2 separate regions of the Homo sapiens genome follow, and region 1 is linked to region 2. The links come from fine-mapping of genetic effects on gene expression. A gene starts in region 2. The other region holds a variant in brackets. All regions are shown on one strand. Distances are between the middles of the regions.

What was found.
Region 1: its variant is fine-mapped to the expression of NUP50-DT in subcutaneous fat (GTEx, PIP 0.98). The same link has a PIP of 0.9 or more in macrophages and sun-exposed skin.

The regions. Positions count from the first base shown.
Region 1 is chr22:45,103,955-45,108,337 of GRCh38, forward strand. No RefSeq gene overlaps it. Among named protein-coding and RNA genes, the nearest start is that of NUP50-DT, 58 kb to the right of the region's middle. The variant A/T (reference allele first, on the strand shown) is at 1,741.
Region 2 is chr22:45,161,470-45,165,852 of GRCh38, forward strand. It overlaps NUP50-DT (NUP50 divergent transcript), which reads right to left and starts at 2,312. Exons shown (of 3, transcript NR_038956.1): 1 at 2,108-2,312. NUP50 (nucleoporin 50) reads left to right here and starts at 2,456. Exons shown (of 8, transcript NM_007172.4): 1 at 2,456-2,827. RefSeq lists silencers at 1,968-2,017, 2,788-3,017, 3,048-3,227 and an enhancer at 2,385-2,907.

The DNA.
Region 1 (4,383 bases), 58 kb before region 2:
CGGCTCTGCCTGGAAGTGCAGATGCCGGAAGCCTCAACCAGAGGGAGCCAGCAGTGGCCTGCCAGCCGCATGCCAGCCCCAGTGGGCTCTGTTGCCTCCCATAGGATTAAACATTTGAGCCCATACTTTAATATCTGAATTTCATCTAAAACTCTAAAGAGTTTCAGTTTCTCTGAAAAAAAAAATCGGAAGATCTGGCAACACTGGGTCTAGGTCCTACGTCCTACCTAGAACAATGAGCAGGGGCTACACAGGGGCTGCCACCTTGGCTTGGAGCCTTTCATTCTCTGTCAGTTCCCTGCAACTCCCTATTTTCTCTCCAACGCTGAGGCTGGGTTTCAGCTGGCATTTGTAAAATTTTGGGGGGCTTGTATTTTTATAGGAGAAAATTTTTTCTTTTTGTCTACACCTCTGTCAACAATGGCATGGTGAGATGTAGGACTAGTGGCCCCAGTGGATCAGGCCACCTGGGTCCCTCTGTGGCCCTGCCCATGTGGACACTGGCCTGAGCCACGTGACTTGCTTTAGCCAGAGGTCCAGCAGCGCGTTAAACACACACACGCACTCATGCATGCATGCACTCACACACACATGCACTCACGCACGCACATGCGCGCGCACACACACACACACACACATGCACACCACACACGCTTGATGAACACTCTGTCCTCTTTGAACCCAGAATTTGGGGTCAAGATGAGAGACCATGTGGAGAGGGACTTTAGAGAGGAAGGGAGTGCTCAAAGAATAATAAGAACGCGTCAAAAACCAAGAAGCTGCTTTGGAAAGGTGACCACTGGCCAAATCTAGGACAATCTGAACATAAAAATAAATTATAGTCACAAAAAATTATACTCCATTGAATATAACAGGAAACCAGGAATCCATACAGATATAAAAAATAAATGAATGCACTGAGAATTTGGTGAGGAATGGAGATATTTGCAGAATTTCAAAGTACCTACCCACAAAATGGCAGAGAACATGAAAAAAGAATGACTTTGGCCGGGCATGGTGGCTTACGCCTATAATTTCAGCACTTTGGGAGGCCGAGGTGGGTGGATCACTTGAGGTCAGGAGTTCGAGACCAGCCAGGCCAACATGGTAAAAAGCCCATCTCTAATAAAAATTATCCAGGTGTGGTGGCACACGCCTGTAATCCTAGCTACAGGGGAGGCTGAGCCACAAGAATCACTTGAACCTGGGGGGCAGAGGTTGCAGTGAGTCTAGATCGTGCCACTGTACTCTAGTCTAGGCGACAGAGCCAGACTCCGTCTCAAAAAAAAAAAAAAAAAAAAAAAAGGAATGACTCTATAAGAGAGATGCTGGCAGACACCACTGTTGTCAAGTGATCAAAGTAAACATCAAGTGACAAATCGAAACCAAGCCCCACCCTATGGGAGGCAGTGAGAGAAACAAGGTATCCATTTGCGACAGTGCTGCCAGACTGCATAGTTGCTTGAGTAGGAGGAAGAGCAAACAAAGGGAATTGAGGAGAGGAAAAGAAAACGAATCGTTCGAAAGTGTTATCCTCCCAGGAGAACTGGAGATGTGTGCACCAGAACACCCGAACAGGGATGGTCACGGGAGCGTTACTCATAAGAGCCCAAGAGTCCAAATGTCAGCATCCAGCAGCTCAGCAGTGGACAGACAAGTTGTGGTCTAGCCACACGTTGGAATGTTATTTGGCAATAAAAAGGAATGAGGTACTAATACACGCCACACCATGGATGAATC[A/T]TGAACACAAGATGCTAAGTGGAAGGAGCCAGTCACAGAAGACCATTTATACAAAATGTCCCAAATAGGCAAATCCGAAGAGATGAAAAGTAGATTTGTGTTTGCTTGGGGCTGGAGTGGAGGCAGGAGGAGGGGTGACTGTCAATGGGCGTGAAGTTTCTTTGGGGGCTGAGGAAAACGTTCAGATGGGGGTGATAACTATAGAACCCTGAATACACGAAAATGGAACTGTATCTGTAAAACTGTATACACTGGATTGTATGTATAAAAGGGTGAGTGTTATGGTATGTGAATTATCGCTCAATAAAGTTGTTATTTAAAATAGTAAAAACAAATTGTAGGTAGATTTAAAAGTTGAACTAGTAAAGTACTAGAAGGAAAACAAGCAGAACTTATCCTACGCGAAGGGTTGGACCAAGAGGATGGATGTGATCAGATGTTGTTCTGTATATTTTATTTGAGAGATAACATAGACGGTGAGGAAGCAAAAGGACTGGGAGGCGGGAGGCAGGACCGCTGCAGTAACCCGGGCAAGAAACAATGAGGGTCTGAAGCAAGGGGTAGCAGTGGGCCCTAAGAGGGAAGGAGAGAGACGAGAGGCATTTGGGAGCGAGAACTGAAGGGCCCTGGTGTTGAATGGGTGATCACAGGAGAAGAAAGACCTCCTTCCTTCCCATTCTTCCCATTCTTCCAACGCAGAGTAAGTGCCACTTCCTCGGAAGCCTCCCTGACTCCAAAGCTCGGTGGGGTTCCCCTCCAGGGTCCCCCCACCTCCATATCAGAGCACTGATCACAGGGACTGGCCATGGTCTCTACTGCCCTCTGGACAGCTGGGCAGCAGGACCTGGGTCCTGTTCACCATCAACCCCAGCACCCGTCAGCATTCAGCATGCTATGAATGTTCAATTAGTATTTGCTGAGCAAAAATGCGAATGGATGAACCAGCCTGTGATACTTGCCAGGTTTTGGCTTCTGAATTCATTCACTATGTTGGCCATTCTACCATGAATGTACTCCAGCTTACCCCTGAGACATGAAGGCAGCTGGGGTTAATGTGGAGCCTGCAGCCCATGCCTTCTGCTCCTGGGTCTGTGCTCCATGTGAGGTTAGAGGATGCCAAGGACTGAATGTGTGTGCCCCCCTCTAATTCCTCTGTTGAAGCCCTAATCCTCAATGTGATGGTATTAGGGGTGGGGTCTTTGGGAGATGATTAGGCCACGAGGGTGGAACCCTCATGAGTGGAATAGCGTCCTTAGAAAAAAGACTCCAGGGAGTTATCCAGCTCTTTCCACCCCATGAGGACACAGCCAGAAGACGGCCATCTGCAAACCAGGAAGGGAGCCCTCCCCAGATGCCAAATCTGCCAGCACCCTGCTCTTGGATTTCCCAGGCTTGAGAACTGCGAGAAATAAATGTCAGTTGTTGAAGCCACCCAGTCTGTGGTATTTTTGTCGTAACAGCCTGAGCTGATGGAGCCAGGGAGGCTGCATGGTCATGAGCATGCTGGAGGCTAGTAGGGAGCAAAGGAAGGGAAGACTGGGGTGGGTGTCAACCCCAGGTAGCCTATGTTTATCCCCGGCCACTGCTCCTCAACTTCATCCTGGAAACCCAGCTGTCACCTGTCAGGAGAGGCTGCTCTGTCTCCTCAGAGCATAGGGCTGCAGCCAAGGTGGCTCAGGGGTCCTCCTCTCCAGTTCCATCCCAGATGACTCAGATGCCATGGGCAAGTGTCCCACCTCCAAGCTCTTATGGCTGTAGGGCAGGGGCTGAGCTGGAAATGTCAGCAACACCAGGAAGAACATTCAGAATATCTGCCCCATGTGTCAACTGCTCACCACGTCCACGGTCCACTCCCGGGTCCAGGCCACCACCATATCTTGCCTGGATTGCTCTTAGGACCTCCTGACCCTGTGGCAGCTTCCAGTCTCACCCACGACAGCCGCCCCGTTTCCCGCACAGCGGCCTGCAATCTTTTAAAGACAAACATCATACCTTGACGTTCTCCTTCCTTACATTCTCCAGGGCCCCCTGGACAACTGCTCTCAGGATAAAATCAAAACCCTTCACCAGCGCATGAGGGTCTGCATGATCTGGCGCCCACATCTCCTTCCCCTCTCTCCCTCACTCACCAGGTTGCAGCCATGCTGGCCTCCTTTTCACCAAAGCTGCCAAGCCCTTTCCCACCCCAGGGCCTTTGCACCTGCTGTTAGAAGCACTCGAAGCTCGGCTGGGTGCGGTGGCTCATGCCTGTAATCCTAGTGCTTTGAGAGGCCAAGATGGGAGGATTGCTTTAGGACAGGAGTTTGAGACCAGCCTGGTCAACATAGCAAGACCCAATGTCTATTTTTTTATTATATATTTAAAATTTTTCTTAAAAAGAAGCACTCTATCTGCCCACTCCACCCGTCCACACCACATAACCCCCTCCATCTGCCGATCCCTGCTTGCTCCATCACACCACTCCCTCCATTCCTTCCCACATAGCAGCTTCCTCCACAGTGGTTGTTTCTACTTGTGCGTCGTTGCATCACTCCCAACCAGAAGCAAATCTGCATGAGCATGGGCACCTGAGCACGGGCACCTGTTCTGTCTTGTCCCCACCATTTCACCAGGGTCCAAGGCAGTGCCCAAGAAACAGTCCAA
Region 2 (4,383 bases):
CTGCCTGATCATAGAACGTTTTATGGATAGATATACTGGTAAGTATATTCACATGGCAAGCCATACTGCCCATTCCCCTCCTGCCCTATAAGTACCCCAGCCTGTAAGCAGCAGTGGGCTCTGGCATTAAGCTGATCCCCCATCTCTGTAGGTTTTTGCCATATACCTGTGTTGCTGTTGAGCTGCCCTTTGTTTTTTTTTTTTTTTTTTTTTTTTTTTGAGACGCAGTCTCACTGTATTACCCAGCCTGGAGTGCAATGGCGTGATTTTGGCTCGCTGCAACCTCTGCCTCGCGGGTTCAAGTGATTCTCCTGCTTCAGCCTCCCAAGTAGCTGAGATTACAGGCATGTGCCACCACGCCCCGCTAATTTTTGTATTTTTAGTAGAGATGAGGTTTCACCATGTTGGTCGGGCTGGTCTCCCACTCCTGACCTCAGGTGATGCACCCGCCTCGGCCTCCCAAAGTGCTGGGATTACAGGCGTGAGCCACAGCGCCCGACCTGTGTGTCATTCTTTAACTCTCGTCTTCCCTTCAAAACCTAACAATATCTTAAGATCAAAAGCATTCTTCATTTAGGTTTCGCTTTAAAGATAATATAGATCTTTGCCAAAGTCAGTAAACAAAGATGAACAATCCTTGTGTCAGGCCTCTGAGCCCAAGCCAAGCCATCGCATCCCCTGTGACTTGTACGTATACGCCCAGATGGCCTGAAGTAACTGAAGAATCACAAAAGAAGTGAAAAGGCCCTGCCCCACCTTAACTGATGACATTCCACCATCGTGATTTGTTCCTGCCCAACCTTAACTAAGTGATTAACCCTGTGAATTTCCTTCTCCTGGCTCAGAAGCTCCCCCACTGAGCACCTTGTGACCCCCCACCCCTGCCCACCAGAGAACAACCCCCTTTGACTGTAATTTTCCATTACCTTCCCAAATCCTATAAAACGGCCCCACCCCTATCTCCCTTCGCTGACTGTCTTTTTGGACTCAGCCCGCCTGCACCCAGGTGAAATAAACAGCCATGTTGCTCACACAAATCCTGTTTGGTGGTCTCTTCACACGGACGCGCATGAAACCTTGGTCGTGGGCCCTCGTGGTAGAGCCCATGTCCCCCAAGATTTCTTTGGCTGTGTTACCTTAGATTTGAACAAGCACTGTACCTAAGGCGGGCGCCTTCCTCCTCCCGCTTTCAGGAATGCCCTGCTCTGCCATTCTTTTGCTTTCTCACTTCTCTAATACACTTGCTTTCACTTTAGTCCGTGGACTCGCCCCGAATTCTTTCCTACGCGACATCCAAGAAGCCTCTCGCTGGGTCTGAGTGGAGACCTCTTTCTGGTAATAAACGGACTAGGGAGATTCGACTTTGAAGGTGAAAACAAAAACCACCATCCAGTTTATAAGAAGGCGCTCGAGGCCGGGAACGGTGGCTCAGGCCTGTAATCCCAGCACTTTGGGAGGCTGAGGTGGTGGGGCGGGGGGAGGGAATCACCTGAGGTCACGAGTTCGAGACCAGCCTGACCAATATGGTGAAAACCCGTCTCTACTAAAAATATAAACATTAGCCGGGCGTGGTGGCGCACGACTGTAATCCCAACTACTCGGGAGGCTGAGGCAGGAGAATCGCTTGAATCCGGGAGGCAGAGGTTGCAGTAGGCCAAGATCGTGCCACTTCACTCCAGCCTGGGCGAACAAGTTAAACTCTCCATCTCAAAAAAAAAAAAAAAAAAAGGGCGGCACTGGAAACAGCTGGGAGTGACAGGGCCAGGGATGAGGGATCGCAAGCTGCTGGTGAGAAAGGAGCTCAGAGGCTGCCTGGCCTACGGGCCAGGAGACCTCAGCGCAAAAAGCGCAGGACTCGTTCCCCTGCTCTACAGCTGAGTGCCCAGGACGGATCTCACTGGCTGAAAAAAACAGAAGAGAAGGCACCCAATGCAAAATCAAATGTCAGCGAACGAGGGGTCCTTTAACAGGCGGCCCACACGGCCCCTCCTGGCGCCGAGACCCAGCCCCTCCGGGCCACCCCGGCCAGGTACGACCAGCAGGGTCACCTGCGCGCGTCCCCCGAGACGGGGCCTCCTGATGTGAAGCGACCCCAGTGGCACCTCACACGATTCCCGAGGGTTGCGGGCGGCCTCTCCTCAGCCCTGCAGCTCCCACACGCGGACACCGCGGGCCTCGGCCATGTCCACTGACCGACCTTCCTCGCCGGAACTCCTCGCGCATCGCCGGCCCCTCAGCGGCGACTAGCGCGCGAACATCCTGGAAGACGCGTTGCCGGCCCCACGTGAGCCGACGCCCCAAAGCGCGGCTGCTGGCGCCGGCTACGAGATCAAGGTCGGCGCGTGCGCGCTTGCGCGAGACCGGCATTCTCAGCCCCGCGCCGGTTTCCAGGGAGCTGGGCGCATGCGCCGCGTAAGGGGCCCGGCCGGCGGAAGGAGGTGCTACTGCCGGAAGCGCCGGCGCGCTTGCGCAGTAGCTGAACGCGGGCGTTTCTTTCCTCCCTTTTTTTCGAATTGGTTTTGGGGGTAGATTCGAGTTACAAAATGGCCGCCCGGAGCGTGTTCGGCGCGGTTCCCCCAGCTGTCTCTGGCTGAACCGGCGCTCTCGCCTCCCTGCCGAACACAGCGTGAGGAGCCCCCCCAGGGATATGGTGTTTGAGTCTCTGGGCTTGCCGAGCACTAAGTCCTCTGAGTTCCGCAGCGCAGCACCGGAAGCGGCCGAGCGCGCTCAGCCCGGCGACCCCTGCGGGCTCCAGACCCCTGCGCCGCTGCGCCCCGGGTTTCGCCGCAACCAAGACCCAGCGAGTGCAGCGGCGGCCGCCGAGGAGGTGAGGAGCGGCGGCGGGCGCGGGAGGAGAAGAGGCTGAGGGCGGGAGCCTGGTGCTGAGAGCCCAGGGCCGGGAGGGCGGGAGCGGGCTCGGGCCTGGGAGGGGAGTGCGAGTGCAGGGCTGGGGACTGGACCCTGGGGAGGGAGGTGCGGGTTCAGCGCCGGGGGACGGGCCCCTGGGGAGGGGTGCGGGGCCGGGGGACCAGACCCTGGGGAGGGGCTTAAGGGGCTGGAGGACGGGACCCTGGGAAGTGGGGTACAGGGCTAGAGGTCGGGACTCTAGGGAGGGAGCCTGGGTCGGGCGCACGGGCCGGGCGGGGCGCGCGGTGGGGGAGCGACGGGTGGAGGGTGGGGTGGGATGACAGCGGCGACGCAGCCCCGGCTGTTTTTGAAGCGGGGCCCGGGCCCCACCGGGCTGCGGCGTCCGACTCGAGTGAGACTCTCCCCTGCGGCCCCGCCGGAGGTAGGGGGCTGGCAGGGCTGTCCTGGCGTGGTCTTCTCCGTTTCCTTCCTAGCGATTCCTCTCGAGCTTCCTCTCCCCCTGGCCGCCCCTCGTCTCTCTTCTCTTGGGCGCATTACCTCTCTGGCCTGTCTTACTGCGTTCCCGGGTTATTCATCACCCATTTGCTCGGTTCCATTAAGAACCAGCTTGGAGATTAGGTATTTCTGTCTCCTTACTTGGCCCCCTTGTTGTTTTCCTCCAACAAGGCACTTCACTATTAAGTGTAGCCAAATCTGTGTTTTCGTTTTAAGGTGATGTTGACAAGTTGAGCTTTCCAAGGGCAGAGCTACACCAGATGCCAGAGACCACATAACTATATCAGGCACAAATAATGTTTTTTTCCAGTTTACCTAGACTTTCAGTCTCCCACCACGTTGCTTCATACCTAGAAATCATGTCTAATTTGGTTTTTTACCCACAAACGCAAACGTTTTTTAAATTCCCTTTTATTGATTGTTTGATTGAGACTGGGTCTTGCTTTGTCACCAGGCCTCAGTGTAGTGGTAGCTCACTGTGTAGCCTGAAGCTCCTGGGCTCAAGTGATTCTCCTGCCTCAGCTTTCCAAGTAGCTGGGACCACAGGCGTGCGCCACTACGCTCGGCTAATTTTTTATTTCTATTCATCTAATCTATGTCCATCTTTATTTTCGTAGAGACCAAGTTGGTTTCCAACTCCTGGCTTCAAGAGATCCTTCCGCCTCCCTTAAGTTCTTCATAACAGTAGCTAGACATAAGACTCCAGGTGCCAGGCCTTGTTCTGAATATTTTACAGAGGGTTTTTTCTCCCCCCCACTTCTAGCATAAAAGTAAAATGTATTGTCTGAAGTGTCATGCTTTGAAATAAAATAGGGATTTGGTAAAATATTTGTAAAAATCTGGTTTGTAATCCAAGTTATTCTTCTTCCATGCTACAACTTTTACGTTTTGGAGGGAAAATGATAGTTTATAGCCTTTGCTTCTAATAAAACTTGTTTCTTTAATAATTTATTAAGCCCTTCCTCTGCTCCAGGCACTGTTCTAAGCCAGTCTTTGTTTATCTTAACTTTCTTAATACTT